Linked DNA regions of Homo sapiens: all the other regions are linked to region 2. The links come from fine-mapping of genetic effects on gene expression. A gene starts in region 2. Each other region holds a variant in brackets. All regions are shown on one strand. Distances are between the middles of the regions. Region 1 has its middle 28 kb from the start of F2RL1. Region 2 holds the start of F2RL1 (F2R like trypsin receptor 1). Region 3 holds the start of S100Z (S100 calcium binding protein Z). Region 4 has its middle 10 kb from the start of S100Z.

Evidence for each region.
Region 1: its variant is fine-mapped to the expression of F2RL1 in aorta (GTEx, PIP 0.98). The same link has a PIP of 0.9 or more in tibial artery.
Region 3: its variant is fine-mapped to the expression of F2RL1 in blood mononuclear cells (TOPMed, PIP above 0.99).
Region 4: its variant is fine-mapped to the expression of F2RL1 in whole blood (TOPMed, PIP above 0.99).

Annotation. Positions count from the first base shown.
Region 1 is chr5:76,786,794-76,794,962 of GRCh38, reverse strand. No RefSeq gene overlaps it. Among named protein-coding and RNA genes, the nearest start is that of F2RL1, 28 kb to the left of the region's middle. The variant A/G (reference allele first, on the strand shown) is at 3,993.
Region 2 is chr5:76,814,146-76,822,314 of GRCh38, reverse strand. It overlaps F2RL1 (F2R like trypsin receptor 1), which reads right to left and starts at 3,285. Exons shown (of 2, transcript NM_005242.6): 1 at 3,051-3,285. The coding sequence starts at 3,132. RefSeq lists enhancers at 2,334-2,951, 2,952-3,569, 7,102-7,756 and a silencer at 3,257-3,551.
Region 3 is chr5:76,845,943-76,854,111 of GRCh38, reverse strand. S100Z (S100 calcium binding protein Z) reads right to left here and starts at 4,098. Exons shown (of 5, transcript NM_130772.4): 1 at 3,957-4,098. The variant A/T (reference allele first, on the strand shown) is at 5,163.
Region 4 is chr5:76,835,587-76,843,755 of GRCh38, reverse strand. It overlaps the pseudogene RN7SL208P. Among named protein-coding and RNA genes, the nearest start is that of S100Z, 10 kb to the left of the region's middle. The variant T/C (reference allele first, on the strand shown) is at 4,070.

The DNA of each region.
Region 1 (8,169 bases), 27 kb after region 2:
CACTCTGAGTGATGAAATCATCCGAATCATCATCATCTCTGAATGATGAAATAGTTGATTTTTATTTCCTTCCCTATTATTTTCCGTATTTTCCAAGTATATTTGAATGAGTTTGTATTATTTTAAAGAAAAAAGATAAGCCGGGTGCTGTGGCTCATGGCTGTAATCCCAGCACTTTGGGAGGCTGAAGCCTGCGGATTGCTTGCGGTTGGGAGTTCAAGACCAGCCTGGCCAACATAGTGAAACCCTGTCTCTACTAAAAATACAAAAATTAGCCGGGCATGGTGGTGGGCACCTGTAATCCCAGCTACTTGGGAGGCTGAGGCAGGAGAATCATTTGAACCTGGGAAGTGGAGGTTTCAGTGAGCTGAGATCGCATCACTGCACTCCAACCTGGGCGACAGAGACTCCGTGGAAGGAAGGGAGGGAGGGAGGAAAGGAAGGAAGCAAGGAAGGGAGGGAGACAGGGAGGGAGGGATAAAGATAAATAAAAAAGAAGAAAGATACATAAAAAAGGAGGGCCTTCACTATTATGATACAAGATCAAACTCACCTGAACTTACAAAAAGAATGTAAGGCTGGGTGCCATTGCTCATGCCTATAATCCCAGCACTTTGGGAGGCCAAGGTAGGAGGATTGCTTGAGCCCAGGAGTTTGGGACCAGCCCAATCAACATAGTGAGACCCCCATCTCTACAAAAAATAGAAAAAATTAATCCCAGCTACTTGGCAGGCTGAGGTGGGAGGATCACTTGAACCCAGGAAGTTGAGGCTGCAGTGAGTCGTGGTTGTACCACTGCACTCCAGCCTGGCCAACAGAGTGAGACTCTGTCTCAAAAAAAAAAAAAAAAAAAGGAATTTATAAGATTGTTAAAACAACTTTGAATGGTGGCTCACACTTGTAATCCCAGCACTTTGGGAGGCCGAGGCAGGCAGATCACAAGGTCAGGAGATCAAGACCATCCTGGCTAACATGGTGAAAACCCATCTCTATTAAAAATACAAAAAATTAGCTGGGCATGGTGGCAAGCACCTGTAGTCCCAGCTACTTGGGAGGCTGAGAGAGGAGAATCGCTTGAATCCCGGAGGCGGAGGTTGCAGTGAGCCAAGATCGTGCCACTGCACTCCAGCCTGGGTGACAGAGTGAGACTCCGTCTCAAAAAAAATAAAAAATAAAAACAACTTTGAAAACACAAGTATGCTAATTTACATGTATTTTCTCTCATTTCCCTCTCTCTGCACAGTTAACAATGAAGTCAGCATTCACATTTCTATGGCTTTGAATATATGTCTAGTGTTTTGAAAGAGCAGCTATTTCTAAGATTGTGTTTTAGGATCTGATAATATTGTCAGAGGCAGTTAAACCAGAGCAACTCCATCTTGAATAGGGGCTGGGTAAAATGAGGCTGAAAACTGGGCTGCATTCCCAGATGGTTAAGGCATTCTAAGTCACAGGATGAGATATGAGGTCGGCACAAGATACAGGTCATAAAGACCTTGCTGATAAAACAGGTTGCAGTAAAGAAGCCGAAACCAGCCAGGCGCGGTGGCTCATGCCTGTAATCCCAGCACTTTGGGAGGCCAAGGAGAGCAGATTACCTGAGGCTGGGAGTTCGAGAGCAGCCTGGCCAACATGGAGAAACTCTGTCTCTACTAAAAATACAAAATTAGCCGGGCGTGGTGGCACATGCCTGTATTCCCAGCTACTCGGGAGGCTGAGGCAGGAGAATCGCTTGAACCTGGGAGGCGGAGGTTGTAGTGAGCCGGGATCACACCATTGCACTCCAGCCTGGGCAACAAGAGTGAAACAACATCTCAAAAAAAAAAAAAAAAAAAAAAAAAAGAAGCCAAAACCCACCAAAAATCAAGATGGCCACGAGAGTGACCTCTGGTCATCCTCACTGCTATGCTCCCACCAGTGCTGTGACAGCTTACAAATGCCATGCCAACATCAGGAAGTTACCCTACATGGTCTAAAAAGGAGAGGCATGAATAATCCACCCCTTGTTTAGCATATCATCAAGAAATAACCAGTCCAGTTACAGTGGCTCACACCTGTAATCTCAGCACTTTGGGAGGTCGAGACAGGCAGATCACCTGAGGTCGGGAGTTCAAGACCAGCCTGGCCAACATAGTGAAACCCCATCTCTACTAAAAAAAATACAAATATTAGCTGGGCATGGTGATGGGCGCTTGTAATCCCAGCTACTTGGGAGGCTGAGGCAGGAGAAATGCTTGAACTCGGGACGCGGAGGTTGCAGTGAGCCGAGACCGGGCCATTGCACTCTAGCCTGGGCAACAAGAGTGAAACTCCATCTTAAAAAAAAAAAAAAAAAAAAAGATAAGAAGAAAAAAAACATAAAAATTGGCAACCAGCAGCCCTCGGGGCTGCTCTGTCTATGGAGTAGCCATTCTTTTTTCCTTTACTTTCCTAATAAACTTGCTTTCACTTTACTCTATGGACTCAATCTGAATTCTTTCTTGCGCAAACTCCAAGAACCCCCTCTTGGGGTCTGGATCGGGACCCCTTTCCTGTAACAATATCACACAGAAAGGCAAGCTCAGGAGCCTGGAAGACTTTACTCAGATTGAAAGAATTAACACAGACTGAATTCTCTCTCAAGGGGTGATCCTCTAAGAATTCTTTCCTTTCCTATCATCTTTGGTCAGAATAATTTTTTGCTTAATTGATTTTTCTTATTCATTATGGAACATAGTGGGGTGAGAATAGAATCAAGGAAGCAGGAAGGGAACCATCCAAGGAAGAGATGAAGGAAGCAGACGGGGAAGGGAAGAAGACAGATGGGAATGAAGAAAATGGGCCGGAAAGAGGAAACTGATAAGGAGAAGTGGGGAAAAGAGGCAGTAGATAAACCAGGAGGGCTTGGGCCTTGGCCTAGAGAACTGGTGAAAGAGGCTTTTGTTGCTGTTGTGAAACGGGCCCCATTCAAGTCTTCCCTGCTCCCTGAAGCATCTCCAGCCCACTCTGGTGTTTACATCTTCTGAGTTCTGAATTCTGGTCCAGATCTCTTCCCTGAGCTCCACCCTCATCAATCTGATCTCCACCTTGGTGTCTAGTAGATATCTCCAATGCGTCTGACCTTCCCCAACCCTATGTAAGCTCTATGAGGCAGAGATTTGGTGTTGGTTTGTTCACTGCTGTATCCCAGAAGCATGCTTGGCACCAAGCAGACATTCAATAACTATTAGTTGAGTGGATGAATTAATAAACTCCTGTAGCAGCAACAGGCAAGAGTACACAATATGCTTTTACTGCATTGGAATGCTGATGTTTCCTGCTTGTTTAATTTTCCCAGCAGAACTGCAAAAACCCTTTAAGATCAGGGATGCTGTGCTTTTATATTCCTGTTGGCGTTTAGCACACAGCTGTGCCCATTGGTGATTTGTTGACTGATTAAACAGCAAGTCCCACCAACAGTACAAGCTCATGGCTAAAGCCACCTTTCTCAAAGAGTAGGAATCACATGCTAACTCAAGAAAAAAAATATGTTAATTCATATCCACAAACTTCTAAGCACTTCAGCTTGGGCCTTGTGTCATCTTAGTGGTATAATAGTTTTCCTATGTTTGATTCTTGTCCTCTTTAATAGAGTACGTCTCATTTACACATCTGGATTTTAAGCAGAGTTTTTGAGTCTTACTCTCCTCCTATCAGGCCTTCAGTGGCTCACCAGCACGATGTGAGCACACATGAGAAGCTCAGCCCACTCCTGCCTGTAGGCTTCTGACTTTGATTAAAGATAGAGGCCATGCAGTGCTGGAAGCCCCTTGCATACTATGATACAAATCCTTCAAATCCCTGCTAGGCTGAAAGATGGGGTTCTGATTTGCTGCTAGTGACATCACCCTTCTGGTAACCTTCCTCTCCAGATGTGCCTCTGCTCTGTTTATCTTAGAGCCTCATTTCACAGCAGCAAGAAGACACAACAGGAAGCCAATGTCTGAAGCTGTTCCCATCCATGCCAGTTTCTC[A/G]TAGCCTGTCTTTGACACAAGAGCAGCTCAGAGTCAATTATGTTGGATTCATTCACTAGGAACTTTTTCCCACCAGAGTCCTTGTTGTGGGTGGAGCAGTCTTTTGTTCTAGCTGGTTTGCTGTCTCTGTGGAATTGCTATCAGAATGGCTGTTTGCTATTGGAATGACTAAGAGCTGCATCATTGCTACGTTAGGAAGCAATTATCTGAAAACAAATTCATTTTCTGAGTCATCTAGCCGATTTAGCCTGTGCCACTCTTTCCCCCTTCCACCCCCTAACATTTCACCAGTTAAACAACTAAAATGTCCTCCTATTCATACCTCCTGCTCTATTTGTCAGGAGATTATATATCTGGTTTAGATGGATCAACAGAGTTATTACTTTTCCCTGTGTTACTCAGTCTGTCCTATTCTAATCCTAGATTTATTTTCGAAAGACACATGGTTTTCTGGATTATTTTATCTGGCTTTCACTCCTTTGTGTGCTAGGTGACTAACATTGCACTCATGAGCTCAGCATCCTTGCTTCCTTCTTTCTGCCTTGTTTTAAAGGTATAATATTTTCACATCTTCTTCATATTGCGTATTTGTTTCCTGTGACTGCAGTAACAAATTACCATAAACTAGATAGTTTAAAACAACAGAAATATATTCTCTCACTGTTCTGGAAGCCAGAAGTCTGAAATCTGTATCACTGGTGGAAGCGAGCTGTCAGCAGGGCTGTGGGCCTTTGGAAGGCTCTAGGGAGAATCTGCTTCTTGTCCCTTCCGGCTCCTGGTGGCTGCTGGCTCTCCTTGACATGTGGCCGTATTATTCTAATTTCTGCCTTGGTGGCCACGTTGCCTCCTCTCTTGCTGTGCGTCTAATCTCCCTTTGCCTGGCTTGTGCAAGGACACTTGTGATGGTCCACCCAGATAATCCAGGATAATCTCCCCATGGCAAGATCCTTAAATTAGTCACATACACAAAGCCCGTTTTTCCTTATACAGCAACATTTACAAGTGCTAGGGATTAGGGACTGCTATCTCTGGATGACCATTATTCAGCCAACCACACTTTCAATTCCCTGCTCTCCACAATGCACAGAATATTTTGTATGTAGATTAAAAAGTTGGTGAGGAAGATAAGGGAAGAAAGAGCAAAAGAAAGGAAATAGAGGATAGTCAAAGAGGATTTTTTTGTAATCCTAGCGCTTTGGGAGGCCCAGGAGGGTGGATTTCCTGAGCTCAGGTGTCCGAGACCAACCTGGGCAACCCAGTGAAACCTCATCTCTACTAAAAGACAAAAAAATAGCCAGATGTGACGGCGTGCGCCTGTAGTCCCAGCTACTCGGGAAGCTGAGGCAGGAGAATTGCTTGAACCCAGGAGGCGGAGGTTGCAGTGAGCTGAGATTGTGCCACTGCACACTGTCAGGCTTCTGAGCCCAAGCCTGCAAGTATACATCCAGATGGCCTGAAGCAACTGAAGAATCACAAAAGAAGTGAAAATGGCCGGTTCCCGCCTTGACTGATGACATTACCTTGTGACATTCCTTTTCCTGGACAATAAGTCTCCAGAGCTCCCCACCGAGCACCTTGTGACCCCCGCCCCTGCCAGCAAGAGAACAACCCCCTTTGACTGTAATTTTCCACTACCTACTCAAATCCTATAAAACTGCCCCACTGCTAACTCCCTTTGCTGACTCTCTTTTCGGACTCAGCCCACCTGCACCCAGGTGATTAAAAAGCTTTATTGCTCACACAAAGCCTGTTTGGTGGTCTCTTCACATGGATGCACATGACACACACCAGCCTGGGTGACAGAACTAGACTCTGTCTAAAAAAAGGCCAAGCGCTGTGGCTCATGCCTGTAATCCCAGCACTTTGGGAGGCCGAGGCGGGTGGATCATGAGGTCAGGAGATCGAGACCATCCTGGCTAACACAGTGAAACACCATCTCTACTAAAAATACAAAAAAACTTAGCCGGGTGTGGTGGCGGGCGCCTGTAGTCCCAGCTACTCGGGAGGCTGAGGCAGGAGAATGGCACGAACCCCTGAGGCAGAGCTTGCAGTGAGCCGAGATTGCACCACTGCACTCCAGCCTGGGTGACAGAGAGAGACTCCTTCTCAAAAAAAAAAAAAAAAGAGTGGCCGAGATCGCACCCCTGCACTCCAGCCTGGGTGACAGAGAGAGACTCCTTCTCAAAAAAAAAAAAAAAAAGAGTGTTTTGTTTTTTTTTTGGCTGTGATTTCCTTTTGGCAATAGAGTGGCCCTCCTGGCATGGGCTCCTGCTTCCTGCTTCCTGCTTCCTGGGGAAATATGAGCTTGCAGGAGGTACCCTACTCTGGCAGCCGAAGGACGCACAGACATTCTTTTCCCCTTCTCCTTGGTAGTTGGGGCACTGGCATATGATACCGGCTACACCAATCAGACATTCCTACCCAGGATTTTTGACTTTTGAGGGCATTAGTACCTGCATGTCAGGAGAATGACAGATTGTTTCCAGGGTGGCAGGGTCAAGAGTCCAGGAGCAGCAAGGGCCCGTGTCTGGCGGCTGTGGCAGTGGCACTTGCCTCCTACTCTGACTGTTGCAGTGGCAAGACCTGTCCGAGTTCTTTCTCTGCTTTTTGGTCTCCCCAGGTTCCTGCTCACTCCCCTACCCTTGTTCTCCCACATATCTGCATATTCAGTGACCTGCTGAGTACCCAGCCAGGACATTCCAAATTATTTATTATTATTATTATTTTACGTATTTATTTATTTTGAGATGGAGTTTCGCTCTTGTTGCCCAGGCTGGAGTACAATGGTGCGATCTTGGCTCACTGCAACCTCCGCCTCCCAGGTTCAAATGATTCTTCTGCCTCAGCCTCCCGAGTAGCTGGGATTACAGGCATGTGCCACCAAGTTTGGCTAATTTTGTATTTTTGGTAGAGATGGGATTTCTCCATGTTGGTCAGGCTGGTCTTGAACTCCCGACCTCAGGTGATCTGCCCTCTAAGGCATCCCAAAGTGCTGTGATTACAGGCGTGAGCTACTGGGCCAGACCTATTATTATTATTTGGAGGCAGGGACTCACTCTGTTGCCCAGGCTGGAGTGCAGGGGCATGATCTCGGCTCACTGAAATCTCTGCCTCTTGGGCTCAAGTGATCCTCCCACCTCAGCCTCCCAAGTAGCTGAGACTATAGGCACACACCACTATGCCCCGCTAATTCTTATTTTTTTTGTAGAGATGAGGTTTTGTCATGTTGCCTAGGCTGGTCTTGAACTCCTCGGCTCAAGTCATCTGCCTGTCTCGACCTCCCAAAGTGCTGAGATTACAGGTGTGAGCCACTGCACCTGGCTTATCCCAAATTTTTAGTTTAGTAGGCAGTTAACTTGGCTGAACTCAAATTCTGAATTTTGCCTCCCCCGTGGTGAGTGAACAGCTGAAGCCTCTGTTATTTTAGCCTTATCTGAACTGCTTGGAGTCTACCCTGTGCATGCATAGTTGGAGATCTGCCAGATACTTGGGTAGCCTCCCCCTGCAGCTGGGAACCAGAGTTGTCAGGTGTGCTGTCCTGAGCCAATATATACACATATACAAATGAATTGGCTCATGTAGTTATGGAGGTTGAGAAATCCCAAGATCTGCAGTTGCCAAGCTGGAGACCCAGGGGAACAAATGATGTAAATTCCAGTCCAAGTCCAAGCCCAAAGGCAGAAGCCTAATGTTCCCAGCGCAAAAACAGTCAGCCAGAGAGAACAAATGTTGTTATATTCAGCCTTTTTGTTGTATTCAGGCCTTCAACGATTGAATGAGGCCCACAGACATGGGGGAGGGCAATTTGCTTAACTCAGTCAACCTATAGAAATGTTCATTTCATCCAGAAACACCCTCAGCGTTACACTCAGAATAATGTTTAACCAAATATCTGAGCATCCCGTGGTCCAGTCAAGTTGACACATAAAATGCACAGATAAAATCCAGACTTTTTTTTTTTCTTTTGAGACGGAGTCTCACTCTGTTGCCCAGGCTAGAGTGCAGTGGTGCGATCTTGGCTCACTGCAAGCTCTGCCTCCTGGGTTCATGCCATTCTCCTGCCTCAGCCTCCCAAGTAGCTGGGACTACAGGCACCAACCACCACGCCCGGCTAATTTTTTGTATTTTTAGTAGAGACGGGGTTTCATCGTGTTAGCCAGGATTGTCTCGATCTCCT
Region 2 (8,169 bases):
ACCTGGGAGGCAGAGGTTGCAGTGAGCCGAGATCGTGCCACTGCACTACAGCCTGGGCAACAGAGTGAGATTCTATCTCAGGGGGAAAAAAAAAATGGAAATACCACATGTCTATCAACAAAGGACTAATTTTAAAATTGATGCATCCTTCTGTAACATTTTGGAGTCATTAAAAATGTTTTATATGTATTGACATGATACTGATGTGCTTATATAATCCCATACTTGCACAAACATATTTTCTGTATTTGTGAATACATATTTTGTGCATGGATGTAATAAAGAGTGGGAAAATATATAAGCCGAAATATTAGCGGTGGCTACTTTGGTACTGAAGTTCAGGGTGATTTAATTAAATGTTTCCTTTTTTTGTTTTGGCTCATTTTTCCCTCGAGTGATCACATATTGTTTTTATAATTTAAAAAACAATTATAGGTAGGGCGCAGTAGCTCATGCCTGTAATCCCAGCACTTTGGGAGGCTGAAGGTGGGTGGATCACCTGAGGTCAGGAGTTTGAGATCAGCCTGACCAATATGGTGAAACCCTGTCTCTACTAAAAATACAAAAATTAGCTGGGGGTGGTGGTGCGTGCCTGTCGTCCCAGCTACTCGGGAGGCTGCAGCAGGAGACTTCCTTGAGCCCGGGAGAGGTGGAGGTTGCAATGAGCCAAAATTGCACCACTGCACTCAAGCCTGGGCAACCGAATGAGAGTCAAAAAAAAAAAAAACCCAAAAAACCAAAAAAACAAAAAAAAACCACCAAACCAATTATAAAGAAAACAGAAGTTCCAGTCTCCAAAAGATAAATGGAATGACCTAGGCCTGTAACATGGTGGAAAAAAATAAGTAAGTGGCAGAGAGAAGCTGACTGAAATGAACACCACATGGACCAGCCAGGGTACTCTGGGCAAGACTCCTCACTTCATTCATTTGCTATTTACTGAGGTCCCGTAGGTGATGAGACTATGCTAGACGTGATGGAAAGGATGGTAGGGCCCCCTGCCTCCAGGAGTTAACGATGCAGTGAGGACACATATTAAGCATGTTTACCCAAATAATTATCAATTACTATTGTAAAGGGAAAGAGAAGCCCTGATTTCCAAGTGTTTTCCTTGCCTTGCCTCCTCAATTCAGTGTCCTTCACCTGTACCCTGAGAAGGTTGTGATCTCGGCTGAGTTCGTTTCTATGAGGCAGTCTTTTGGAGTGAGGCTTTGGGAAGAAAATCAAACCCCAAATCGGCCCTGCAGCCACCTGAGGGGCACGCAGAAGGACCGGCTAAAAAGCGAGTGAGCAAAGACCCACCCTGAGGGCAGAAAAGCTTTGCTAACACTGTATTTCTTATTAAAATCAATTTAGTTTTAAGGTGGGAGGAAAGCTCCATCTGCCTAAATCAATTGTCAGTGTTACTTCACTAACCCTTTGGGAAAGTTACTTTGCAAGGGAATAAAAGTATGGTGGGGGGAGGATGAGGAACAAGGTGCAATATTAAGTGGCTATAGTTAACAAGTAACCTGATTTTTCCTTATTGTTAAATCAAGTTCGCCTTATAATCCAGGGATCTCCCAATCCCCCAAGAGTAGTAAACAAGAACAAGACAAATAATCGGGGCATGCTTCCTACAGGGATCTCTGAATCATAAAGATGTTGAATCAGCTATACCAACATGTATTTTTTTAAAGTTTGCACATACTAACCTTTGCTCCTGAATTTTAAGTTTCCAACTTTAAAGGACATAGAGGAGAGGTGTCCATTACAGTTTTCAATACTTCCTGGAACTAAATGCCTTTATTCTGATGCTGATTAAGAAAAAAAAATATACCAGCGGTGCACAGTTTTCAAGCTTACACCATTAACACCCTTTTCCCTAACTGCAGAGGGAAAAGAATCACATTCTTCCATCTAATTCCAACCCACTGTGACTTGCTCTTTTACTTCGTCTTTATGAAGAGGAGGATAAAAGTGAGAAATGCGCATTTCTGAGGGAAATTAAAAGCTCCCTTTGCTACCCAGGCTGCCCCAAACAGAGGGGCCTCGGTTAGGATCACAGTGGCGCGATCGCAGGTCAAACATCCCCCACGGCCACAGCGAGGCCTGCTGGGCCCGGAAGAACACACTCCCAGCAATACAAGTTCGAGCACACCCGGAGCAGCACATCCAAGGAACGCGACGGCCGGGCGCAAGTGCTGCTCTGTTCCCAGGCCAGCCAGCCTCTGGCCTGCAGACCTGGGTGGCAGCCAGTGGCCGCTCCGGGTGGCACACTAGGAAAGTCCCGGAACCCCAGGCCCAGAGGGTCAACTGGTCAAATATAAGGCAGGGTCCAAAAAGTTCCGCTCGTAAATCCTCGTGGCGCCCAACGGGCCTGAGCGCTCATTACCACCAGAACCCATCAGGGACCGGCCCTGACTTTCATACCCCGGGCCTTCCACTGTGGGTGCCAGGAGCAGCGGGACCCGGGTGGGTCTCGAACGCAGGGGCCAGAACCCGAAGAAAGGCTTCCAGCAGTTGGAGAGGGACGCAAAAAACAACCTAGAAGGCTCCCGGGCCGCGGGTTCCCACCCACTCCGCCCTGCCCTGCGCAATCAGCTCGCTAACCCCACCGGCCCCGCGGGGCCAGCGGAGGAAGTCTCCGGAGTTGGCAAAAAGCTCTTAATGACTTAGTGTTTACAAAGCAACCAAGCCCGGGGAGGGGACTAGGTCCTCTGCGTACCCTTTAGACACAGCTACTCCTTCCTTCCCTCCCTTTCCCCGAACCCACGCTGGGGCCTGGAGGTGCCCAGCATGACAGCCTCTACGGGAAGTGGGGTCTTTGGGGAAATCTCTGCCTCTGCCCGGCTCCGCTGACTTCAGCTGCTCCCGCATGTCCCACCTGGGTGCCTCCTTGGCGCAGAGACCTCACATCAAAGCCACCAAGGGGAGGCTAAGGGATTCGTAGAGATGGGTGCCGGCAGCAGAACAGCCTTCGCACACCTGCCCGGATCCCACCGTCTGCCCAGCGTGCCCAGGACCCCAGCTCCTCAGAGATAAGAGCCCTCCTTGGCCAGGTTTCTCACCTTGGATGGTGCCACTGCAGGAGAGAGAGGCTGCTAGCAGGATGGCGGCCCCCAGCAGCCACGCCGCGCTGGGGCTCCGCATCCTCCTGGAAGCCCCGACGCCGGGCGCGCGGGGAATCCGCCGCCGCCGATTCGAAACTCAGAGCTCCACTGGACGCACCGAGAGAAAGTCAGCCTCTCACCTGCCCCGAATCGGAGCCTCTGCTGCGCGCCTCCCCAGGGCGGGTTAGGTTTCAGGGAAACCGAAGGAGCAGCGTACTCACCTGCGGGAGGCCACGCCCCGGGACCGGAACGCGCGCCCTGGTCCCGCCCCCGGCCCCCTTCCCTGCGCAGCTGCGCCCTCCGCTTCCCGGACTCGCGCCAGGTCCCTTAGACTGCGGGAGCCGCCTGCGGGCGGGGTTGAGCGCATGAGGTGTCTGCTTTGGAATGCAAATAGCAGGAGCGCTGGGACCACGGGTTAATCCCTGCCTAGGCTATACCGCGAACTACCTTTAATCTTTACTTACTCCTAGAGAAGCGGGTCGTCGGTCTCCCTTGCCTTTCCTGACTGTGGGAAAGCCACGATTCGTACTCACTGCAATTGTGGTTGGTAACTGATACAGACAGGGCTTCCCGGTGCGGTGGACCCTGCAGGAGGAGGGATGCGTTTTTTATTGTAGAGGCAGGTGGGCAACTGCGGACATCACGAAAGCGGTGGGGAGCACAAGAGGCGGGGCGGGAAAGAAGACATGGAATGGCTACTTTCAGCGCCAAGTGCCAAAGCTTTAGAGAATTATCTTGCTTAATCCCCATAACAACCAGCGCAATAAGTATGATTATTCTTCCCATTTTACAGACGAGGAAAGTGAGCTTAGAAAGACCAGATAAATTGGCCAGAGTTACACGACTTATAAACACAGTGTATAAATGTTTATCACATTTCAACTCCAGTATAAGACTATCACTGTCTTCTATTCATCGCTGCACTATAAATGCGTCCACCAGGGCTCCTCTGCATTGGGATCCCATAGGCTAAATAAATACAAAAGCAGATAGAAGGGGTGGGAGAAGAGAAGTGTGGGGTTGGGGATGAGTGCATGAGGGTTGGCATCATATTGGTAATGTCTTACTTTTTGTTTTTGAGACGGAGTCTCGCTCTGTCTCCCAGGCTGGAGTGCAGTGGCGTGATCTCGGCTCACTGCAAACTTTGTCTCCTGGGTTCAAGCAATTCTCTGGCCGCAGCCTCCCGAGTAGCTGGAGTTACAGGCGTGCACCACATCTGGCTAATTTTTGTATTTTTAGTAGAGGCGGGGTTTCACCATGTTGGTCTGGCTAGTCTCGAACTCCTGACCTCGTGATCAGCCCACCTCCGCCTCCCAAAGTGCTGCGATTACAGGCGTGAGCCACCGCACCCAGCATGTCTTACTTTTTATTTGCTTTTTAAAAGATTGAATAAAACAAAGTCTACTGTTACCCATTTAAACTATTGGTACCAGAAGAGCACAGAAGAGAGACATAGGTATTTTCAAATATTTAAAGGATTCGCTTGTAGAAGAGGATTTAGATGTGTTTTGAGTTGCTCCAGAGAGCAAAAATTGGTGGAAGCCACAGTGGGGTTTAATTTCAGCTCAATGTATAAAGAAATTTTCTTTATTTTTTATTTTAATTTCTATTAGAAAATAGAAGTGGGGTCTCCCTATCTTGTCCAGTCTGGTCTGGAACTCCTGGCTTCATGTGATCCTCCCCACTCAGCCTCCCAAAGTGCTGGGATTACAGGAATGAGCCACCACACCCGGACAGGCTTCTCCCCTTGTTGACATCTGTGTGATCCCAAGTTTACTTATCCTCTCTAAGCTTTCTTATAATATATATATATATACACACACACGTGGTTTAAAGGTTTATAGGTGTCTGTCTGAGGATAAAATAGTGACTAGTGACTGGGTTTGATACATGGTAGAAGCTCAATAAATATTTTTTGTTTATTTCCTTTCTCTGAGGAGTCTTCATACTCCACCTGCACCCCAGCTCTCACCTCAGCCCATGCCCACTTTTCCTCCCAGGAAAAGCTGACTTCTAGAAGCAGAACAGGAACCTTTGACATCCTGAACAGCGGACAGCTCTCCTGATAGGGATCAGGCCATTCCTGAAGGTCCCTCCCCAGGGGAGATAACTGATTCCTAAGATGTCCCTTCAAACTTTTCAAGCATCCATTTCCTCATCTGTAGCTTATTAATATTACATCTATCATCTGGGAATGATACTAGTACCTCTCTCGTAGGGTGGTTGTGAGGATTCACTTTGCTAAATGTCCATAAAGCACTTCTTAGTACCGTTTCTGGTATATAGTAAGCACCTAAGAAATGGGAACTGCTATAGAATGACTGCCTTTAAGGTGGAATCTTCCTCTTTCAGAGAACAATACATCAGGGTCCAGCTGCTTTCGATTTAAATTTTCACTGTATTTTATGGGAATATGCCTTGAATCATCACAATTTCCAATAAAAGACTTTATTGAACAATGCTATGAGTTAATTATCTCAAAAATGTGGTTTCTTCCCCCAGCCTGACTAAATGAACTAAACTCACTTGAGTCAGTTTGCAGGTGTTTTTCTGTAATTTTGGGAGTATAGTATTTGTTTTTCAGGTGTTGATGACTCCTTCGCCCTGAAGGGATTGGAGTATTGTATGGCTGTGTGGAACAGTACAAAGAAATGACCACAGGCAACTAGACTGCCTGGCTTCCAGAGATTAGGAACCTTCTGCAATCTTCCACCACCTACAATTCCAAAGAGGAGTTTAGACATTGAGGGAAAAGGTATTTCATTCAAATAATTTGTCAAACTCTTCCTGGAGAAACAAAGTCCCAAGTTACTGGGTCCTAATCAAATATAGTTGGAGAAAGTTACACTCATTTATTCACTGATTCATTGAGCACTCACTCTGGACAAGGTTAGTAATGAAATCCACATGGTAAGTCCTATGGTCCTCTTTCAGTCCTTTCTCAGTTACTCAGCCTAGCTGTAGAATTGGACACGATTGATTTCTCCCTCTTTCTGGAATGCTCTATTCACTTGGCTTCCAGGCCCACTCTTCTCTTGATTCTCCATCTGTCGCATTAGCAACTCAGAAGTGGGTTCTTTGCTAGTTCCCACCTACCCTCCTGACCACTATATTCTGGAGTGAGTGCCCCTAGCTTAGTCTTTGGACTTCTTTTCTTTTTTTTTTTTTTGAGACAGGATTTTACTCTGCTGCCCAGGCTGGAGTGCAGTGGCACGATCATGGCTCACTGCAGCCTCAACCTCCCAGGCTTAAGCAATCCTCTCACCTCAGGCCCTGAGTAGCTGGGACTACAGGCACACACCACCAGGCCTGGCTAATACTTTTTTATTTCTTGTAGAGACAGGTTCTCACTATGTTGCCCAGGCTGGTCTTGAACACCTGGGCTCAAGCAATCCTCCCACCTTGGATTCCCAAACTGTTGGGATTACAGGCATGAGCCACTGCGCCCAGCAGACTTCTTTTCTTCTCAAAGTATACACTCATTCCTTTGGTGACCTCATTCACTCCCATGGTTTTAAATACGATCTATATGTTGACAGCTCCCAAATTTCTATTTCTACTCCTGATTTCCCCAATCCAGACATATAGCATATTCATCTAGCTATTCAAAATCCCCCCTTGGATGTTTCTACAGGCATATCAAGCATAAGTCCAAAACTAACTTCCTGATTCATTACACCTCCACTGCCCTTTTCACAGTCTTCCCCCTCTCCTTAAATTACAACTCCATCCTTCCAATTGCTCAAATCAAGTCTTGGAGTCAGGCTAGGTGCAGTGGCTCATGCTTATAATCCCAGAAATTTGGGAGGCCAAGGCAGAAGGATTGGTTGAGCCTAGGAGTTTGAGATCAGCCTGGGCAATATATTGAGACCCTATTTCTACAAAAAAATTGCCCAGGGGTGGTTGTATGCACCTATAGTCCCAGCTATGCAGGTGGCTGGGCAGAGGGATCACTTAAGCCCAGGAGCTCCAGGCTGCAGTGAGCTGTGATTGTGCCACTGCACTCTAGCCTGAGCAACCAAGTGAGACCCTGTCTCTAAAAAATTAAAATTATTTGGCCAGGCACACTGGCTCACACCTGTAATCCCAGCACTTTGGGAAGCCAAGGCAGGCAGATCACTTGAGGTCAGGAGTTCGAGACCAGCCTGGCCAACATGGTGAAACCCCATCTCTACTAAAAATTAGCCAGACGTGGTGGCACAGGCTTATAATCCCAGCTACTCCGGAGGCTGAGGCAGGACAATCGCTTGAGTCCTGGAGGCGGAGGTTGCAGTGACCAGAGATTGTGCCACTGCACTCCAGCCTGGGCAACAGAGCAAGACTCTGTCTCAAAAAAAAAAAAAATTATAAAATGAAAATTAGGCTGGGTACAGTGGCTCATGCCTGTAATCCTAGCACTTTGGGAGGCCGAGGCAGGCAGATCACCTGAGATCAGGAGTTTGAGACCAGCCTGGCCAACATGGCCAAACCCTGTCTCTACTAAAAATACAAAAGAATTTAGCCATGTGTGGTGTCGGGCACCTGGAATCCCAGCTACTCGGGAGGCTGTTCAATCACTTGAACCTGGGAGGCGGAGGTTGTGGTGAGCCGAGATGGCACCATTGCACTCCAGCCTGGGCAACAAGAGCAACACTCCATTTTTTGCTCCAAGAACAAAAAAAGGAAAAGAAAACAAAAATACTAAAGTGCTTTCCACTTCCCTCTGAGTGAAAACCAAAATCTATCAAAGGTTTACACATCCTGTCCCCTCTTCCCCATCCACACACACACACCACCTCCTTGATGTTATCGCCTGTGATTCATATCATCATCCTGCTCCAGCCATGTATGCCCCCGTCATTCCTTTGCACTCAGTATCCTTTGCCTGGAGTGATTTTCCATCAAGCAGCTCTTGACTCATCTCTTTAAAGTGTTAGTTTACTTAGAATTATAAATCACTGGAGCTGCAGGGGTCCTTATAAGCCAGAGTAGGCCCTTACTCAGCCAGCATCTCTTAGCTTGTTGGCAGTGAGGCTAAGGTGTCTGGATGGTAGGCAAGGAGTGAATTGGTCATAGTGGTCGCTCATCTACACAAAGG
Region 3 (8,169 bases), 32 kb before region 2:
TGGGCTCACAGTTCCACAGGCCGTACAGGAAGCATAGCAGCATCTGCTTGGCTTCTGGGGAGGCCTCAGGAAACTTTCGATCATGGCAGAAGGCAAAGGGGAAGCAGGCACATCTTACATGGCCAGAGCAGGAGGAAGAAAGAAAGATCTTTCAAACAACCAGATCTCACGCTACCTCACTTACTCACTATCATGAGAACAGCACCAAGGGGATGGTGCTAACCCATTCATGAGAACTACACCTCCATAATCCAGTCACCTCCCACCAAGCCCCACTCCAACCCTGGGGATTACAATTTCTTTTTTTTTTTTTTTAAGATGGAGTCTTGCACTGTCACCCAGGCTGGAGTGCAGTGGCACTATCTCAGCTGACTGCAATCTCTGCCTCCTGGGTTCAAGCAATTATCCTGCCTCAGCCTCCCCAGTAGCTGGGACTACAGGTGTGCACCATCACACCTGGCTAATTTTTTGTGTTTTTACTAGAGACAAGGTTTCACCTTGTTGGCCAGGCTGATCTTGAACTCCTGACCTCAGATGATCTGCCTGCCTCAGCCTCCCAAAGTGCTGGGATTACAGATGGGAGCCAACACATCCGGCCTGGGGATTACAATTTGACATGAGATTTGGTGGGGATACAGATCCAAACCATATTAGCAAGTAATAGAATAAGCAAATAAAAGTAGTTCAAGCTTAATAAGGTAATTTGCTATCTCTTACTATAAAAGTTGGTTGTTTCAGTGTTTTGTCAATGCTATCAAGGGCCCAAGATCTATCTTTCTTCTTCCCTATCTTCTGTGTGCCAGCTCTCATCTCTGACTTGTCCCCGCACAGTCACAAGATGACTGCTGCAATTCCAGGCATCACATCCTCAGACCATCTATGGAGGATTATTTGGAGGGAGTCCAGGCATTTCTCTAGATTTTTCTAAAGTTTCTGAAATTAATATAGCCAGATCAGTAGAAAATTAGGTGTCTGAACTGTATCACATTGGCCCCTCCTAGAATTGTTTAAGCAGCTGTGCTTCAAGGGAAATGCTGCTTGAAGCTGCTAGAATCATCAGCCTTAGACTTGAATCGACTCTGGGATGAATGTTGTTTGAACTTTTCATTCCCTCTCTATGAAGACTCTCAGGGGAAAAATGTTGCTCTGGTTCTTGTGTTGAGAAGAGTCCTGACTTGCCTAAGCAGTCATCCCATGGATACTATGAATAGCCCAGCTGATAAGATAGGATAAGACAGATAATGTATCCTCTTTTTCTTTGGCTGCTAGAAAGCCTAGAATCAAGTTCATGAGCCACCTAGGCCGAATACTTGATTTTACCACATGCTGCAAACTCAAATACCTACAGCCGGGTCATGTTCAAACTTTGCTGTTTTTTGTTTGTTTGTTTGTTTTTTGAGACAGAGTCTCACTCTGTCACCCAGGCTGGAGTGCAGTGCAGTAGCGGGATCTCAGCTCACTGCAACCTCCGCCTCCTGGGTTTAAGCAATTCTTGTGCCTTAGCCTCCTGAGTAGCTGGGATTACAGGTGTGCACCACCATTCCTGGCTATTTTTTTGTATTTTAGTAGAGATGGGTTTTCACCATGTTGGCCAGGCTATTCTCAAACTTTGGCCTCAAGCAATCCACCCACCTCAGCTTCCCAAAGTACTGGGGTTACAGGTGTGAGCCATTACACCCAGCCCAAACTATTTAACAACAGATACAACAGAGGCACTAAGCAGAATGAAAAGCAGTTGTGAACAGGGAGCATCAGCCTGCTTCCACGGCCAGGCTGCTAGTGTAAACAGGCAAAATTGAGACTAAGAAAAAAAAAATATCTTGACTAATTTTTTTTATTACATTTGATAGAAGGGTGAGTTCAGAGAAATAGTCCATGCTGATAAGAGGACCGACACTGCTTCAGTGCCAGACAGCCAAGTGGAGTGGAGGCCAGTGGGAAATTGGAGAGCCCGTGCTCTCCCAAGAAGGCGAGACTGCTTCTCAGACCCAGATCATCGTTGCCAGATGGGATATGGCTCAGAGCTCCCAGAACTTCACTTTTTTTTTTTTTAAAAGAAAAAGTGAGAAATTTTAATTTTTAAGAATTCCTGGATTTTAAGACTGCAACTCAAGACAAACAAACAAAACCCACCAAAACCCAACAGACAAACATAAGACTGCAGGACAACTCAAACAGGAAATTCAGCGAATGCTGGCCAGCTTGTGACTTCTGCTTTCTGCTGTGTACTTTATATTTAACCTCATTCCTTCCTCTACTTTACATCTCGTTCTTTTCTGTCTGCTTTCTCTCCTACTTAATTTATAATATCTTACTCTACTTTGTGTTATCTTCATATGTCACCTTAAATCCTACCTAGGACCCAGGAGAGTATAAATAAACTGACCACAGGACATCTCCACTTAGGTAACACATCAGAGTCTCAGATTCCAAACCACAGCAAACTGATTTTGGCATTTTCCAATCCCCTGCTCCCTTCTTCCTCTACCCCAGAGGGGATCCCCTTTTTTTGCTGCTCCAGTCAACAGCAATACCCTCATTCACCCAACTGCATGGCCAGAAACCTGAGTATGATGCTATTCCTGGCCCCTCTCTCTCTCTCATGCAATCAGTTGCCAGGTTGTATCTCCTCACTCTCTGTTCCTTCCTCCTCAACCCTAGCGCCATAGTTCAGGCCCTTGTCACTTCTGGCCTGAATTACTGCATGAGATCCCAACTCACCTCCTGCACCTACTTTGCTCTTCTTCAAAATTAGCCTCCCCTGCCTGCTGGGAGGCACACCTGAGCTCCTCACTTAACCTCCTGGACAGGCCCTGCCATCCCCTGGCTAAATCTAAACTCCCCGCAGTGTGCCCACCCATCCCCTCTGCACCATCTGTGCCGCACACGTGGCACTGCCACTGTGCTGCCCATTCCTCTGCTCAGGTGCCAGTCCTCCAGGGAAGCCTCCGATGCCCCTCAGCTCCTGGGAGCACTCCGCCTCTGGGTGCCCCTGTATCACCTCATGCTTTCCTCTAGACCTGCACCGGCACTGGGTTGAAGGAAAATAATAGTAGCCAACGTTAATTAGCACATACTCTGGGCCAAGCACCCTTCTAGGCAGTTTAAATGTATTCCTTTATGTCATCCTCAAAAATCCCATGAGGAGGCTGGGGAGCGGTGGCTCATGCCTGTAATCGCAGCACTTTGGGAAGCCAAGTGGGAGGTGGAGGTTGCAGTGAGCTGAGATCACACCACTGCACTCCAGCCTGGGTGACAGAGTGAAACTCCATCTCAGAAAAAAACAAAAAACAAAAAAAACTTTATTTCTCTGTCTAACCCAAATTTTGTGTCCTCTCACCAACTTCTCCCCAGCCCCTCCATCCCTCTTCCCTCTCTTCTTCTGTAGGCTGAGAGCAGCCATTCCAGGGCTGATTGTCCAGGCATGCCCAGCACTGGCCAGTGTGAAGAGGAGGAGCATAGACCACTGCTGTGACTTCCTGGGAGTGGGCTTACACTGGCATCTGTGCAGGCTTCAGGAAAAAGAAGCGAAATCACGGCGTGGATCTAAGGGGCCAAGCCTCACCTTGAAGGTTCTTCTGGGTCTTTGGCCTGGACAAGAACATGAAACTTGAATTTCTCAAGGTGAGGTGAAGGCCAAGCAGGAAGCCAGGATGGTCACCAGGAAAGGAGCCAGAATGAACTAAGTGTTCTTTAGGGCAAGGAACTTACCAGAACCTCTACGCTCCGAGCTATGATCAGGCTGCTCTCTCCCTCTCTCTCTCTCTCTCTCTCTCCCCCACCCCCCCGACCCCTTTGTGGCCAAGGTAAGGCCACATTTTAGAGTGGAAGCCCCAAGGCAACCCCCCACCTCACAACCTCCACTCTTGTTGCCCTCTCTAATCCAACGCCTGCCAGGCTCACACTTCAACCACTAGACTGAAAAGCAAGAATCTTCCACAAAAATAATCTTTTACCTTAGACCTGCTTCCTGTGCAGATGAGATAAGGAGAATGCTCTTGTCTGAATTTCTGGGCGTGGAGATTAGCAAGCCGTTTTCCTCCCAGCAGCTAGAGCGAGCAAGAGGCCCTGCTGTGAGTAGTGCTGTTCTGAGTCTGCGTGGTCCAGACTCACCACACTGCAGGCACGTTTCTTCATCAGGTGGGAAAGCAGGAAGAGGTTTAATTTAGGACCTAAAGCTGGTATATTGCTGAGTAAAAGAAATGGGAAGGCACCAAGTCTCTAACGAAATTGCGCTGGGTGCAGTGGCTCATGCCTCTAATCCCAGCACTTTGAGAGGCTGAGGTGGGTGGATCACTTGCGGTCAGGAGTTTGAGACCAGCCTGGTCAACGTGGCGAAACCCCATCTCTACTAAAAATATAAAAATTAGCCAGGCATGGTGGCGGGCGCCTGTAATTCCAGCTACTCGTGAGGCTGAAGCAGGAGAACGCTTGAACCTGAGAGGCAGAGGTTGTAGTGAGCTGAGCTCGCCGCTGCCCTCCAGACTAGGTGACAGAGCCAGATTCCGTCTCAAAAAAACAAAAAAAAAAGAAAAAGAAACTGCTTGTGATCCAACACTCCCCCACTGGTGCCTCCTCATGGTGAAGAGCAATTACTCTGGCACCAGAGTCTTGGGGTTCAAATCCTTACTTCACCAGTATGTGACTGGAAAAGCTACCTAACCTGCCTGCTGAAGCTTCATGGCTAATAATTCCTCACAGCATTTCTTTTTTTCTTTTTTTTTTTTGAGACAGAGTCTTGCTCTGTCACCCAGGCTGGAGTGCAGTGGCATCATCTCAGCTCACTGCAACCTCCACCTCCCTGGTTCAAGCTTCTGCCTCAGCCTCCCAAGTAGCTGAGATTACAAGCGCCCACCACTAAGCCTGGCTAATTTTTGTATTTTCAGTAGAGATGGGGTTTCACCATGTTGGTGAGGCTGGTCTTGAATTCCTGACCTCAAGTGATCCGCCCACCTTGGCCTCCCAATGTGCTGGGATTATAGGCGTGAGACACTGCGCCTGGCCCAGGAGGAATAAGTTTAAGAGCTCCCATTGTACAGCATGCTATCTATAGTTAATAACAATATATCGTGTATCGAAAATTGCTAAGACAGTAGATGTTAAGTGTCTTTATCACCCCCAAAAAATGACAAGTATATGGGGCAATTAAGTCAAATAGCTTG[A/T]CTTAATAATTCCACAATGTATACATAAATTAAAACATCAAGCTGTATTTGTATACCATAATATATACAATTTTTACTTGTCAATTAAATAAATAAATACACAGAAAAGGGCAGAGACAGGTCAAGAAGCACAGCACTCAGTACAGAAATACAGATAACAATATATTGAAAGAAAGAATTCAAAGATAAATTTTTTTTTTTTTTTTTTGGAGACAGAGTCTTGCTCCATTGCCTAGGGTAGAGTACAGAGACACAATCACAGCTCTCTGCAACCTCAACCTCCCAGGCTCAAGTGATCCTCCCACTTCAGCCTCCCAAATAGCTAGGACTGCAGGGTATGCCACCACAACCTGGCTAATACTTGTATTTTTTTGTAGAGATGGGGTTTCACCATGTTGCTTGCCCAGTCTAGTCTTGAACTCCTGGGCTCAAGTGATCCTCCCAGCCTGGCTTCCCAGAGTGCTGGGATTACAGGCACCAGCCACCGCACCCGGCCAAAGATATGTTCTGAAGATTGAAACGTCTCTCTTTCCAAAATAACTACTCTTGGCCAGGTATGGTGGTGTGCGCCTGTAATCCCAGCTACTCGGGAGGCTGAGGCAGGAGAATTGTTTGAATCCGGGAGGCAGAGGTTGCAGTGAGCCAAGATTGTTCCACTGCACTCCAGCCTGGGCAAGAGTGAGACTCCGTCTCAAAAAACAAACAAAACCCAAAAACCTCTTGACTGGGTGCTGTGCCTCAAGCCTGTAATCCCAGCACTTTGGGAGGCAGAGGTGGGAGGATCACTTGAGCCCAAGAGTTCAACACAGCCTGGGCAACATAGGGAGACACCATCTCTACAAATTTTTTTTTAAAAATTAGCTGGGCATGGTGGTGCACACCTGTGGTTCCAGCTACTCAGGAGGCTGGGGTTGAGAGTATCACTTCAGCCCAGGAGTTTGAGGCTGCAGTGAGCTGTGATTGCAACCACTACTCTCCAGCCTAGGTGACAGAGCCAGACCCTGTCTCTATAAAAGCATTAATTAATTAATTAATTAATTACTAGTCTTTCCCACCTGAAAGTGAAAACTAAGAAGGTCCAAACTGTAGGATTATAGAATGACGGATGTCTGGGGAGATCAGAACAAATCTGCGGAAGAAAACACATGTAATCTGTCTGCATTGCCAGTTTTGGGTGGTGATTCCTGTCCAAGTGTAGCTCCCAAGCACAAGACTGTGGTCTAGGGTCCTGTTCTTCCCTATCTTTAGGAGAACATTAAGATCACCATGAGGCAGGCACCACATAAGAGGGCACAGTGATAAGAATTTTAGCATTCCTCGTTGTTCCTGCTAAGTGCTTGTGAACAGTTGTATAACCAGAGTTCTCGATCGGCAGAGCCTTTTCATTTCCTCTAATATGCTTTCACACTTTCCAGTTCTGGATGCAATCAGCAAAATCCAGACTATGGGGAAAATCTACAAACAACCTGGTTTCTTCAACAAGTAAGTAGCAAGTGGTGAGGGTGGAGATAAATTAAGAGATTTAAAAGTCATCAACCAATTGCAATGTCTGAGCTTTATTTAGATTCTGATTTTTTAAAAAAAGAAACCACTTATGATAATTGAGATGAGTAGAAATTTGAACACTGACAGGATATCTGATATTAAGAAATTTTTTGAGGTATGATTTTTAAATTTCTTGTCTTAGACACTGAAACATTTACGAGTGAAATAATATGATTCCTGAGATTTGCTTCAGAATAAACGGGATGGGGAGGAGGATGGGGCAGAATTGACCAAAGGTTGATGGATATTGGGCCTGAGTGATGGAGACATAGAGTTTCCCTATACAATCCTAATTCTGTATGGGTATAAAATCCTCCATAATAAAGTTTTTAGGGCTGGGCGCAGTGGCTCACACCTGTAATCCCAGCACTTTGGGAGGCCGAGGTGGGCGGATCACTTGAGGTCAGGAATTCTAGAGCAGCCTGGCCAACATGGTGAAACCCAGTCTTTACCAAAAATACAAAAATTAGCCAGGCGTGGTGGTGGGCGCCTGTAATCCCAGCTACTTGGGAGGATAAGGCAGGAGAATCGCTTGAACCCAGGAGGCCGAGGTTGCAGTGAGCCAAGATGGCACCACTGCACTCCAGCCTGGGAGACAGAGCAAGATTCTCTCTCAGAAAAATACATAAATAAATAAAATAAAATAAACAAACAAACATAAAGTTTTTAGGCTGGGCACCGTGGCCTATGCCTCTAATGCCAGCACTTTGGGAGAGCGAGGTAGGTGGATCACTTGAGGTCAGGAGTTCAAGACCAGCCTGGCCAACATGGTGAAACCCCGTCTCTACTAAAAATACAAAAATTAGCCAGGTGTGGTAGCGGAAACCTGTAATCCCAGCTACTAGGGAAGCTGAGGCAGGAGAATTACTTGAACTCAGGAGGCAGAGGCTGCAGTGAACCAAGATCATACCACTGCACTCCAGCCTGGGCAACAGAGCGAGATTCTGTCTCAAAAAAAAAAACACAGTTTTTAAAAAGATTAAAAAAAAAGAATTTCAGTTTTAATGGACAGAAATGGTCACTAGAATAAACACCATCATTTCCCTCCCTGTGCTGCAATTTTTTAAGCCATAAATTCTGATAAATCTGTTATATTTTTAACAAAGTCTCCCATTTACACAAATCTCTGGTTAAAGAAAAAAGTCTGACTTCCACTGGTAAGAACTAGACACAGTTCCCCTGCAAGAGCCCAGGTGGCCTCTGAAAGAGTTCACAACATAAGGCTTGGCTAAAACTGCTTTCTCGGGATTAGGTAATTGAGTCTACCCGATGGTACATAGAAGCTATAATTAAACGCTTTCCATGGGTTTGCCATTCACCCCAGGCTACATGGTGGAGCTGAGGTGAGGAACTCAGACCTGAGCCAGATCCAGCAGTGTTGAGAGTTAATCCCTCATATGCAGGTGAGCTGGCTAGGGCCCAGAGCTGGGACTCCAGGCTCCTGCTGTAGTGGCTGCTGCCA
Region 4 (8,169 bases), 21 kb before region 2:
AAAAAAAAAAAAAAAAGATACAGGTCATAAAGACCTTACTGATAAAACAGTTTGCAGTGAAGAAGCCGGCTAAAACCCACCAAAACCGGATGGCCACGAGAGTGACCTCTGGTTATCCTCACCGCTACACACCCACGAGCACCATGACAGTTTACAAATGCCATGGCAACATCAGGAAGTTACCCTATATGGTCTAAAATGGGGAGGCATGAACAATCCACCCCTTGTTTAACATATCATCAAGAAATAACCATAAAAATGGGCAACCACCAGCTATGGGGGCTGCTGTCTGCAGAGTAGCCATTCTTTTATTCCTTCACTTTCCTAATCAACTTGCTTTCACTTTATCGACTCGCCCTGAGTTCTTTCTTGAGTGAGATCCAAGAAAACTCTCTTGGGATCTGGATCTGGACCCCTTTCTAGTAACATAGGTAACCTCACCAAGTTCTTTTTTTTTTTTTTTCTCGCGCTGTTGCCCAGGCTGGAGTGCAGTGGCACGATCTCAGCTCACTGAAACCTCTGCCTCCTGGGTTCAAGCAATCCTCCCACCTCAGCCTCCTGAGTAACACTGGGACCACAAGCGCATGCCACCACACTGGGCTAATTATTTTTATCTTTTGTAGAGATAGGGTTTTGCCACGTAGCCCAGGCTGATCTCAAACTCTTGAGCTCACATGATCCTCCCACCTCAGCCTCCCAAAGTGCTAGGATTACAGGTGTAAGCCACCGCACCCAACCTCCTACTCAACAATGCTGCTTGGATGTCTAACAGGCATCTCAATCTCAAGATGCCATGGTCAAAACAGAACTCTTAACTTTCAACCTCCAAACATGCTCACTCCTAATTATTTCACCATTATCCATCAAGCAGAAACTCTAGGCACAAGCTTTGATTCCTCTTCTTTTCACATCTGTTGACTTTAGGCTTCTTCTCTCCCTCTCTGTTAGCACCACCCTAATTCAAGCCAACATCACCTCTTGCTTGGATTACTCCAAATTGTTCTTGCTTTCTCATCTTGTCCTTCTATAATCCCTATTCCACATAATAGCCAGTGATTTTTTTCTTTTTTTGAGAGGGAGTCTCGCTCTGTCACCCAGGCTGGAGTGCAGTGGCATGATCTCAGCTTACTGCAACCTCCGCCTCCCGGGTTCAAGCGATTCTCCTGCCTCAGCCTCTTGAGTAGCTGGGATTACAGGTGCACACCACCACGCCCAGCTAATTTTTGTATTTTTAGTAGAGACGGGCTTTCACCATGTTGATCAGGCAGGTCTTGAACTCCTGACCTCGTGATCCGCCTGCCTTGGCCTCCCAAAGTGCTGGGATTAAAGGCGTGAGCCACCGCGCCCGGCCACCAGTGATTTTTTAAATGGGCAGTAAAACAAACCTATGGCATCCCATGTAGAAAGAAAATCAAGCTCCTTACTCCCTTACAGTTCCCTTCAGTTATCAAGCTCTTGCCTCTCTCCAGCCTACTTGCTCATACTCTTCCTTCCCTTACTCATTCCCATAAAGCCCTTGCTTGGGATCCTCCCATGGCTGGCTCTCCTGCCCTTTACATTGCCACTTAAATTTCACCTCCTTAGAAACCTTCCCTGATCTCCCAATATAAAATACTCTTAGCATTTACTACTATTGGATATTTTGTTTTGTTTTCAGTCTTTCTCCAATCAGAAAGTAAACTCCATGAGAATAGAGTTCTTGTCTATTTTGTTCTCCACAATATTCCTTACTGCCTAGAAGATGACTTGGCACATAGTGCGTGGTGGAAGAATATTGAATTAACAAGTATGTACAGATTTCCACTCAAATATTATTTATATAGCAATATAAGTATAGCATAAGCTGGATTCCATAAATTATGGTATATGTGCACATGGAGATAGCCATTTAAAATAATGAGGTCAATCTGTAAATGCTAACATGGCAATCATATCCAAGATGTGTTCACGTATATAATGCAGAAACCAGCCTCCCATGTAATCCCCAGTGATCCTCGCCTCCTGGTGTTTATGCTAGGTAGTCTTCTCCCAGATTGAATTGGAGCTAGCTTGTCTGACCAAGCAATTGGAGCTAGCATGGTGGAGGTGATGGTGTGTGACCTCTGAAGCTAAGTAATGAAAGGCATTGTGGCTTTCCCCTTGTTCTCATGGATCACTCATTTTGGGGAACACCAATCTTCATGTTATGAGGTCAGTCCAACAGCCCTGTGAAGAGGCCCACGTGGAGGGGAACTGAAGCTTTCTGCCACCAACATGCCAGCCCTGTGGAGGATCCTCCAGCCCCCGTCACATCTTCAGCTAGCAGCAGCTCCAGCCAGTATCTTACCTGGTACCTCATGAGATCCTAAGCCAGAACCATTGGGCTAAACTGCTCCTGAATTCATAACCCACAGAAACTGTGAAAGTTAGTAAATGTTTATGACTGTCTTAAGACACTAAATTTTGAGGTAATTTATGTGTAATTTAACTAATACATGGTGTAACTCCTTTTATTTTTAAAAAGCATGTATACATGTTTATACATGCATAAAAACATCTCAAAGAATATACAGAGGGCGTATAAACGGGTTCCCATGTGGTGGGTAGGGAGGGTGTTCATTTCTCATTATATACTTATACTCTCAGATTTACTTATTTATTTTAGCTACTCAATAGGTATGGGTTTTTTAATTTGCATTTTTCTAATGACTAAGGCTAAGCATCTTTTATGTTTCAATATGCCTATTTGCCATCTATTCTATTCTATTCAGTTCTTCTTCTTTTTATTTATTTTTCATTTTTTAGAGATGAGGTCTCACTATGTTCCTCAGGGTGGGGTGTAGTAGCTACTCACTAGTGTGATCATGGCTTCGTGGCTCACTGCAGCCTTGAACTGCTGGGCTCAAGCAATGGTGTAAACAAAGCAGTGGTTAGGGGGGTAAGCCATAGTAGTGGCCCTTCTGGAAACTTCTTGTCCTTCACATTTACTTTGACTTTCTGCCTGTCTCAGGATCTAGCTCTGGAATAAGCTATGCTTTAAAGGCTTTTGAGAAGCCCATATACTGGAGGGTTAGGTTTCTGGGGTTTGTGTTTTTTTTTTAAATATTGATGTATTCCACTGAGAGAACATCAACCCCTCAACTGGATAGCTGTTAAGGTGGAAATCCTAATTTAATTATTTGCATTTAATAATGCAGTAATGTTGCAATGAATGTTTGTGGAATTGTGAACCCTGAATATTTGAGACAGGTCTCAGTTAATTTAGAAAGTTTATTTTGCTAAGGTTGAGGACACATGCCCGTGACACAGCCTCTGGAGGTCCTGACGACATGTGCCCAAGGTGGTGTGAAAGGAAAATATCTTGGGCCCCCAAAATCACTGCGCTAAAAGTTAAAAGTCAAACTGGAAACTGCACAGGGCGAACCTGCCTCCCGTTCTATTCAAAGTCAACCTCCACTCACTGAGATAAATGCATATCTGATTGCCTTCTTTGGAAAGGAAGAAACTCAAAAGAATGCAAGAGAGTTTGTCTCTCACCTATCTGTGACCTGGAAGTCCCTTCCCTGCTTTTCTGGTCTTTGCTTCAAGTTATCCCGCCTTTCCAGACCAAACCAATGTACATTTTACATATATTGATGTTTCATGTCTCCCTAAAATGTGTAAAACCAAGCTGTGCCCTGATCACCTTGGGCACATGTCGTCAGAATTTCCTGAGGCAGTGTCACAGGCATGCGTCAACCTTGGCAAAATAAACTTTCTAAATTAACTGAGAACTGTCTCAAATGTTTAGGGTTCACAGTGCTCAGAGCAGTTTGGTTTTACACATTTTAGAGACACATGAGACATCAATCAACGTATGTAAGATGAACATTGGTTCGGTCTGGAAAGGCAGGACAACTTGAAGCGGGGAGGGGGCTTCCAGGTCATAGGTAGATGAGAGACAAACAGTTGCATTCTTTCGAGTTTCTGATTAGCCTCTAGAAAGGAGGCAATCAGATATGCTTTTTTTTTTTTTTTTTTTTTTTTGAGATGGAGTCTTGCTCTGTCACCCAGGCTGGAGTACAGTGGCGCAATCTCAGCTCACTGCAAC[T/C]TCCGCCTCCTGGGTTCAAGCGATGTTCCTGCCTCAGCCTCCCAAGTAGCTGGGACTACAGGCACCCAGCAGCATGCCCGGCTAATTTTTTTTGTATTTTTAGTAGAGACGGAGTTTCACCTTGTTGGCCAGGCTGGTCTCGAACTCCTGACCAGGATGGTCTCGATCTCTTGACCTCGTGATCCGCCCACCTCGGCCTGCCAAAATGCTGGGATTACAGGTATGAGCCACCGCACCCGGCCCAGATATGCATTTGTCTCAGTGAGCAGAGGGGTAACTTTGAATAGGAGAGGCAGGTTTGCCCTAAGCGGTTCCCAGCTTGACTTTTCCCATTAGCTTAGTGATTTTGGGGCCACAGGATTTATTTTCCTTTCACAGGATGAAGGATTGAACCACTCACACTGCTGCTGGGTTCTTGATGGGCCCGCAGGCTTGGGCTGTGGTTTTTACCGGAGGTTGTCTGTAACTCTGGTCAGGCTTAATTTCTCACCAATAAAGACAAAGGCTGGGAAACAGTCCATAGATTGACCCACTGGTAGAGGCAAGAGCAGTTCATACTCAAATCACGGAATATTTCAAACTGTCCCTCCAGAGAGGCATTCCAAGGTTGGTCTGAGTCACTCTAATTGTTGACATTTAAGTGGGACAATCATCTCAGTGAAGTTCCAAGGCTTGAATAAAATGTAGGGCTAGATCCCTGATCACTAAGGGCTTGGTTTTTGTCTTCAGAACTGGGGGTCAGGAAAGGACTGGCCACATCAGAAACTTCTTTTTGAGAAGACATCTAAACACCCAAGCAAAAACTTATCATTTTAATCAAGATCCGGAGGACAGCAAGTACTACCTTTGATTCTGCAATAAATTATAGTCCTCTCAGGGGCCTCCAAAGGGTTAATGTTTCAGGAACAAAGTTGTAATCACTAAACTATGCATACTGATGAGATTATAGCCCTAAAGTTTATGAAACCTTGATAACCAGGAAATTAATTACAGGTTTGAAACTCCTGCTGCAAACCACTGAGGTGACACGTTAGGAAAAAGCCCATAAAACAACTCCAGCCGAGTCAGTTTAGCACTGGCCTTTGTCCTGAGCATCAGGACTGCAAATCTTCGTTCACTTTCAAATTAAGAGGCCTCACTGTTAGTACATAAGCCTGTGGAGTTCAAAGTATTTACATTTTCAGACATTTTAGGACTCAGTTTAGAGAAATTAGACCACAGTATGACATATAACACAAGAGCAAAGACAACCACATCCAAGGTACTACTCCGCTAGGGCCAGAGTTCCTCATGCTTCCAATCAGGAGCCTAATTCAGATAGACCAGGGGGTTTTCTAAGCCACTTTTCAAAGGCAGAACAAAACGATTTGAAAAGCTTTTGCTGGGCCAGGCGCGGTGGCTCTCACCTGTAATCCCAGTACTTTGGGAGGCCAAGGTGGGTGGATCACCTGAGGTTAGGAGATCGAGACCAGCCTGGCCAACCTGGTGAAACCCCGTCTCTACTAAAAATACAAAAAATTAGCCAGGCATGGTGGCGGGCGCCTGTAATCCCAGCTACTCAGGAGGCTGAGGCAGGAGAATCACTTGAACCTGGAAGGCAGAGGTTGCGATGAGCTGAGATCACACCACTGCACTTCCAGCCTGGATGACAGAGCGAGACTCCATCTCAAAAAAAAAATAAGCTTTTGCTTTAGCAAATAATTTTAATTTCTCAAATCATTTCTTTTATACTTTTTTGTTTAGTTTTTTTTTTTTTTTTTGAGACAGAGTCTTGCTCTATCGCACAGGCTGGAGTGCAGTGTCCCGATCTTGGCTCACTGCAAGCTCCACTTCCCAGGTTCATGCCATTCTCCTGCCTCAGCCTCCCAAGTAGCTGGAACTACAGGCGCCCGCCACCACGCCCAGCTAATTTTTTGTATTTTTAGTAGAGACAGGGTTTCACCATGTTAGCCAAGATGGTCTCAGTCTCCTGACCTCGTGATCCGCCCGCCTCGGCCTCCCAAAGTGCTGGGATTACAGGCGTGAGCCACCGCGCCTGGTTCTTTTGTACTTTTTAATGTAGATTCAAAGGCTTGGTGAAAATAAACCAAGAAAAATATCTGTTCTTTAATAGGTACTTCTGACTAAATGTTGGGTCATTCATACATGAAATACTACCTGGTCATTAAAAATAATGAGAAACAGGCAGGGCACAGTGACTCATGCCTGTAATCACAGCATTTTGAGAGGCTGAGGAGGGAGGATCTCTGGAGTTCAACAGTTTGAGACCAGCCTGGGTAACATAGCAAGACCCTGTCTCTACCAAAAAAAAAATAAAAATAAATTAATGAGAAACAGTGAATGAGTTAAAAAAATTATGAGGACAATTTATATAAACTGATTTAGAAGTTAAAGTATATATGTATGTACACACATTCATACACATTTATTCTTAAAGTATAGCCACAAAAAAGAGATTTGCATAGTTACAAAAAGAAAAAAAAAGACTATAGCCAGGAGTGTTGGCATGTTCCTGTAGGCCCGAGCTAATACGGAGGCTGAAGCAGGAGGATGACTTGAATCCAGGAGTGTGAGGCTGTAGTGGGCTATGCTGATCATTGTCTGCACTAAGTTCAGCATTAATATGGTAACCTCCAAGGAGAAGGGGACCACCAGGTTGCCTAAGAAGGGGTGAACCAGCCCAGGAGGGAAATGCAGCAGGAAAAACTCCCATAGTGATCAGTAGTGGAATCACACGTGGAAATAGCCACTGCACTCCAGCCTGGGTAATAGACCGACACCCTGTCCACCCCCCACCAGAAAAAAAAAAAAAAAAAAAAAAAACCAAGAAATGACAAACACCAAAAAAATGTTCTCCACTGAGGTGGAGGTCAGCTACAGATGGCCTTCGGGGCTCTGTGAGCCATTTGTTCCTGCTCCCTTTTATCCTGTTCCCACCATTTTCTCATTTCTCACCTGACAAACGGGGACAACTTCACAGGCCTGCAATCAGACTCAAAGCAGAACAGGCAAAGAAAGCAGTGACACTGAAGTGAAAGGGGGCAGAGCAGAAAACAGGTCTTGTCCACAGAGCATAATAATAATATTATTTAATATTTGTGACCACATAAACGTGCCAAATAATTTTATTCTCATAACTTTATGAGGAAGATACTATTATCCTAATTTTACAAGTGAGGAAACTGAGATACTACTATCCCCATTTGACAAATGAGTCGCATTTTTTTTCTTACTTCTTGAGGTAATAAAAACATCCCTAATGTAAGCAGTGATGGAGTCAGAATTCAGCACAGCCCAGGACCTGCACTCTTAGCCACCAGGCTGTGCTGCTTCTTCAGTAAAACAACAATAAGATTGGGAAACCAAAGATTGATAGCATGGAATGTGGATGAGCATTTCAGGAAACAGGTGCAAATATACCATTTTGGTAGAAATATACATTACTGAAGACAATTTGGCAAGACTTATCAAAACCTAAAATGAGCATCTAACTTTTGAGCTGGCCATTCTACTTCTAGAAACTTATCCTCAAAAAATATGCTCACAGATGTCTGTATACAGATATTTGATACAGCACTTTTTTTTTTTTTTGTAGAAAACAAAAATGGAATATTTATGCGCAACTCAAAAGAAACACTACGCATATAAGGTAAGAGATTAAATATAAACACGGCAAGTTCCATCCCATTCCTATTTCTCCAAGGCTGCATGACCAAATGGAATCTTGAAGAGAACACCTAGATAACAGAGGACCTGTCAGCGACTCTGGACTTCTGGGTGCAGCACTGTTTTAAAAGTCAAAAAAAGAAGGGTGGGGGGATGACAACCTAAGGAGCCGTTGGTAGGGAATTAATTAAATACATCACAATATACCCAAAATGTTAAATAGCCTGTATCCTTGAAAAGCGGTCAACCTACAGATGCAGGTATAGAAAGAATTCTAAAACTTTTTTTTTTTTTTTGAGACGGAGTTTCGCTCCTGTTGCCCAGGCTGGAGTGCAATGGCGCAATCTCGGCTCACCGTAACCTCCACCTCCCGGGTTCACGCGATTCTCCTGCCTCAGCCTCCCGAGTAGCTGGGATTACAGGCGTCTGCCACC